Linked DNA regions of Homo sapiens: region 1 is linked to region 2. The links come from fine-mapping of genetic effects on gene expression. A gene starts in region 2. The other region holds a variant in brackets. All regions are shown on one strand. Distances are from middle to middle.

Region 1 (2,910 bases), 110 kb before region 2:
CTGGTAAAGTCAAGGAAGCAAATTCTTCCTAGAGCCTCTAGAAGGAACATAGTCCCGTTGAACCTTGGTTTTAGCCCAGAGACATCCAATTTGGACTTTTGACCACCAGAAGTAAGAACTATAAGATGATAAAATCAATATAGTTTTAAGTAGCTCAATTTGGGGAATTGATTACAGTAACAATAGCAAACTTATACAAACATTAAGAATTTATTCATTCATCCATGAATATTTATTTATTTATTTATGAGTCTCACTCTGTCACCCAGGCTGGAGTGCAGTGGCACGATCTCAGCTCACTGCAACCTCCGCCTCCTGGGTGCAAGAGATTCTCGTGTCTCAGCCTCCTGAGTAGCTGGGATTACAGGCACAAGCCACTACGCCAAGCTAATTTTTTTTGCATTTTTAGTAGCAATGGGGTTTTGCCATGTTGGCCAGGCTGGTCTCGAACTCCTGACCTCAGGTGATCTGCCCACCTAACCCTCCCAAAGTGCTGGCATTACAGGCGTGAGCCACTGTGCCCAGTCCATCTGTGAATATTTACAGAGTTCGTTCTATATGCTGGCAACATTGGTGAAAAAAGTCTAAGATGCCTGCTCTCAAAGAGCTTATTTCTTTAAGGATGTATTTTCAGAGAGATATTGCAGTGAAAGAGAACAGATATAGAGAACATAAACACAAGCGGTCTGTAATGGCTGGCTCCCTAGCCTCTAACCTCCACAGCAGAGTCACCTAACTCCCAACCAAGGCCTCAAGACCACCCTGGCCCCAAATGGCAGCAATGCAAAGAAACTGAGCCAAGTGGGCAGCATGAGGCTCAGCACTCAGCCCTCCTTCCAGCTGGCCCCACTTTCATCTTGTGTTCCAGTGAATGACTGGGTCAACACAGCCAGTTCCTCTGAAGCTGGGGTTCTAGGCAGACCACATGGGTCCTCCTGGGGATTAAGAGTCTTATGTGGTCCTTCAACTCCGTGCTGAGCTGCCTTGATACTAATCATTGCCCATCAGCCTGCAACTCTACCCATTGTCCAATGGGAGACTCCTCTCTTGCCAAACCCCACCTCCCTGCCTGGAGGTCCAACTGTCCCCTCCACTCCTCTCTAACAAGAGGACATGCCCACTGAACTACCAACTGTAGTCAACCACCTCTCTCGGATACTGCCTGCCTGCTCCTCCCTGGTTCGTGGGTGTGCCCCTGGCCTGCCTTACCTCAGTGGTCTCTGGATCCTAGCCTGAGCAGACTTTGTCCTGATCAGGCTTTCCATCTATTCTCCACGCAAAGCCAGTAAGTCAATGCCACTGGGTAAGGGATTTCTTCTCGGGATGATGCAAATATTCTCAAATTGATTGTGGCAACAGTTATACAACTCTCTGAACACACTAAAAACCACTGGACTGTGTACTTTAAAAAAAGTCAGGATTGGCCGGGCATGGTGGCCCACATCTGTAATCCCAGCA[C/T]TTTGGGAGGCCAAGGTGGGTGGATCATGAGGTCAGGAGTTCAAGACCAGCCTGGCCAAGATGGTGAAACCCTGTCTCTACTAATAATACAAAAATTACCCGGGTGTGGTGGTGGGTGCCTATAATCCCAGCTACTCGGGAGGCTGAGGCAGAGAATTGCTGGAACCCAGGAGGCGGAGGCTGCAGTGAGCTGAGATCCTGCCACTGCACTCCGGCCTGGGTGACAGAGTGAGACTCCATCTCAAAAAAAAAAAAAAAAAAGGCCAGGCGCAGTGGCTCACACCTGTAATCCCAGGACTTTGGGAGGCCGAGACTGGCGGATCATGAGGTCAGGAGATTGAGACCATCCTGGCTAACACCGTGAAACCCCATCTCTAATAAAAATACAAAAAATTAGGCGGGCGTGGTGGTGGGCGCCTGTAGTCCCAGCTACTCAGGAGGCTGAGGCAGGAGAATGGTGTGAACCCGGGAGGCAGAACTTGCAGTGAGCCGAGATCGCGCCACTGCACTCTAGCCTGGGCGACAGAGTAAGACTCCATCTCAAAAAAATAAATAAATAAATAAAAATAAAAGTCAGAATCATCTCATCTCTGCTCAAAACCCCCCAGTAGAGCCCTCCAGGACCTGCCCTCCCCTCCTCCTCTCCCCCTTGCCCACATAGTCCCTCCAGGCACCCTGGCCCCCTCAATGTTTCTTCTGTAAGCTCCTGTTTCAGGGCCTCTGAATCGGCTGCTCCCTGGACTGGAACACTTGCTCTTACCCCAAGAGCTGTTGGCTCATTCCTCACTTCCTTCGGATTTTGACTCCAATATCATCACCATCGAGGGTCTCCCCATCACCCAACGACAAATGGCACTCCACCCCAGCTACACAGGCCCTACCACTTTCTGCCCTCACCCTGACACTCACGACCAGCTGTTCCAGCCCACAGGTTGGTTGTTTTCTCCCTCCCTCCATTGGAATTAAAGCTCCATGTGGGAAAGGGCTTTGTTTTGTTCACCATGGCATCTTGACCTGGTACCTAGAGAAAAAAAAGGGGGGCACACAATTGACACTCAGTAAATGTTTGTTGAGTGAATAAATGAGTGGTCCAAATCTGACCCAGTCTTGATTCCAGCAATGACACAAGAAAAATATTATTGGGTTGTACTTTAATTATCACAAGACCCTCTAGGACTTTAGTTTAGTGAAATCTGTATTATCACACAATAAAATCAATCCTGATACCAGAAAAAGATCTGCCTTCCTTGACATTCAGATTCATTAAAAATGACAAAAGAAATCTAAACAACTGGAATAAGGAGGGTTGGGCAGATATTGCGGGTAAAAAAAATCAATCCAAAGCTTCCTGGTAGAAATGAATATTTCAGAGCAATGATTTTGCAATAACAAGTTGGCATAAACTGCAAATAACCTTTTCTGTGGGGCCAAAATATTAACTATGCTTCAGGA
Region 2 (2,910 bases):
CAATGAGCCGAGATTGTGCCACTGCACTCCAGGCTGGGTGACAGAGCGAGACTCCCTCTCAAAAAAACAAAAAAGGCTTTCCTGAGCTCCAGTGCATGCAGCTTTTGAAAGATGGTATTGTTATGAATCCCCTGCAGCGCAACGTGCAGGCTCGCTACTGTAGTGAATGCTACTGGTAAATCAGACCACAGTGATTTAAAACAAAAATCTGCAGGAAGTGAGACCCTGTGACTTGAAAGTCAGAGGGCCAGGGCAAGCCTTGTCAAGAAAAGAAAGCATGAGATCCTAGAATCCTCGTTTGGAAGGGACTCACCTCTCATTTCTAGGGAGGCATCACAAGGCAGTATAGTTTATGAAGACCACCTGGCCATCGACCTGAAATTAAACCAGAGGTGCAATTCACAAACCTCGATAGGCAAGGCAGGTAGAAGTTGCCAGAAGAAACAGTGACTCTCTTTAAGATGAAGCAGCCCAGAACGGCATCATCTCACTCAGGTAGTGCGTCTGAATGAGCATGCACAATTGTTTAAATGAATAAATGTTTTGCTACACTGGGTCCATTATAATTCGAGCCTACACCCCCTCCTAGATCTTGAAAACTTGAAGAACTTCTTAGCTGAAAATAACAGCTCAGCTAAACAGGCATTTATTTGCCCACAAGACCGCATCTCTGAACAGTTTCAACAAGCTAAAAAAACTGACGTCCTTTCCAAAGAAAAGGAAGTCGGCTGCCAGGGGAGAAAAGGCTTCAGCGATGCTTGGAGGAAGGGACTCTGGTTTACGCTGGCTCCCTTCCTAAACACTTCCGGAAGCAGAGCCCCTTCCCGGCCGCTGGAGAAGCCTGGGTGGGACCCCGAGTCGGCCAGTTACAGGATAGGAGGTGCCAGGCAAGGCACTGAAGCCATGCAGTGAGAACAGCGTGAGCGCCTGATCCATTGGGTCCTGCGGCTGCCAGGCCAGAGGCCCCGCGCCAGGAGCTCTTCAGGCGCCGGCTGCTGACAGTTCCAGGCGTGGAGCGCCTTCCCACGTGAAACGCGTCCCGGAAGATACGATCCTCACAACCTCTTCCCTCAAAAACAGACTCGGCAAAGTTAGCCCGGATAAACCTGCCCCGTCGCCCCAGCGCCTCGCGGACGCTCCCCTCCCACCTTCAGGAAACGCGCCTAGAAGAAAGCGAGCTTAATCCGCCGGTAAGGCGGACGTGACGTCACAAAGCGCCGGTTCCTTTCGGCTCCCGCTCCCAGAGGCGCGCAGTGCATGCCGGGCCCTGTAGTTTTTCCGGGGAGTCGGTGCCAGGGCCGAGATTCCCGCGCTTCAAGTCCCGCAGCCCTGGCTGCGTCTTAGAGAGGCGTGAAACCGGATGATGGGAGCCGCTTGTTGGCTTAGATATTCCTTCAACTAGAATGACGTATCTTGCAGCACTCGGCTGAATTTTTTTCTTTTTCTTTTTTTTTTTTGAGACGGAGTCTTGCTCTGTTGCTCAGGCTGGAGTGTAGAGGCGCGATCTCGGCTCACTGCAACCTTCGCCTCCCGGTTCAAGCGATTCTCCTGACTATGCTGTATTTCTATCTGTAACATCACTGTCCAATAGATATATAATTCGAACCATATACGTAATTTAAAAATTTCCAGTAGCCTCATTAAAAGTCAAAATAGAAACAATCATATATATTTTATTTAACCCATACATCCCAAATAGTATTATTTCAACATATAATCAAAAAATTTTTTGAGATGGAGTCTCGCTTTGTCGCCCAGGCTGGAAGCGGCGCAATTTCGGCGCACTGCAACCTCCGTCTCCTGGCTTCAAGCGATTCTCCTGCCTCAGCCTCCCAAGTAGCTGGGATTACAGGCGCCCGCCATCACACCCGGCTCATTTTTGTTATTTTTAGTAGAGACGGGGTTTCGCCATGTTACCAGGCTGGTCTCGAACTCCTGACCTCAAGTGATCCGCCCGCCTCAACCTCCCAGAGTGCTGGGATTACAGGCGTGAGTCACGATGCCCGGGGTCGGTCTGTCTGTCTCATATATATATATATATATATTTTTTTTTTTTTTTTTTTTTTTTTTGAGACGGAGTCTCGCTCTGTCACCCAGGCTGGAGTGCAGTGGCGCAATCTCTGCTCACTGCAAGCTCCGCCTCCCAGGTTCACGCCATTCTCCTGCCTCAGCCTCGCGAGTAGCTGGGACTACAGGTGCCTGCCACCACGTCAGGCTAATTTTTGTATTTTTAGTAGATACGGGGTTTCACCATGTTAGCCAGGATGGTCTCGATCTCCTGACCTCGTGATCTGCCCGCCTCGGCCTCCCAAAGTGCTGGATTACAGGCGTGAGCCACCGCACCTGGCTGCCGAGTCTCAATATTTTAAAAAATACTTATGTTCTGTTCTGTTTTTAATGCGAAGTTTAAGAAATCTGGTGTGTGTTACACTTAGAATACATCCCAATTTGGATCAGCCACATTTCAGATGCTGGATAGTCACATGTGGCTACTGGCTACTGTAGTACAGTACTACTACAGTGTAGTGGGCAGAACAGGTCTAAAAACCTTTGGATTGCCGGGAATAAGTAATATAGCTGCCTGGATACTTCAGGGGCCTTTGTCACCCAGTAACTGAATGCTCTATTACTAAAAATGAAAGAATTCATTTTTCTTTGTTACCCCTCAAAAATTTATGCAACTTGCTCAACCCCATCCTTCTCTCTAGTTCAAAGGAAATGGGACATGGCCCTCCTCCAAGGCCAAAGACTTTGCTCCTCATTCCTCTCCAATATCTTTAATCTGCAAGTGACTGCCTCTTCTGTCTTTTAAGAAATATTCCAGTGGGGGTAAGGGGTATCAAAGACCTTCTTCTAGGGTTCTTTATCTCAGGGATTGGTATTACTAGCAATCTAGTTGCGTAACTAAAA

The links. PIP is the estimated chance that this variant, and not a neighbour inherited with it, causes the effect.
Region 1: its variant is the best candidate, but not a certain one, in a credible set for the expression of ADAT1 in esophagus mucosa (GTEx, PIP 0.59).

What each region holds. Positions count from the first base shown.
Region 1 is chr16:75,511,414-75,514,323 of GRCh38, forward strand. No RefSeq gene overlaps it. Among named protein-coding and RNA genes, the nearest start is that of CHST6, 17 kb to the left of the region's middle. The variant C/T (reference allele first, on the strand shown) is at 1,459.
Region 2 is chr16:75,622,090-75,624,999 of GRCh38, forward strand. It overlaps ADAT1 (adenosine deaminase tRNA specific 1), which reads right to left and starts at 1,192. Exons shown (of 10, transcript NM_001324445.2): 1 at 314-1,192. RefSeq lists enhancers at 1-465, 466-985, 867-1,106, 986-1,505.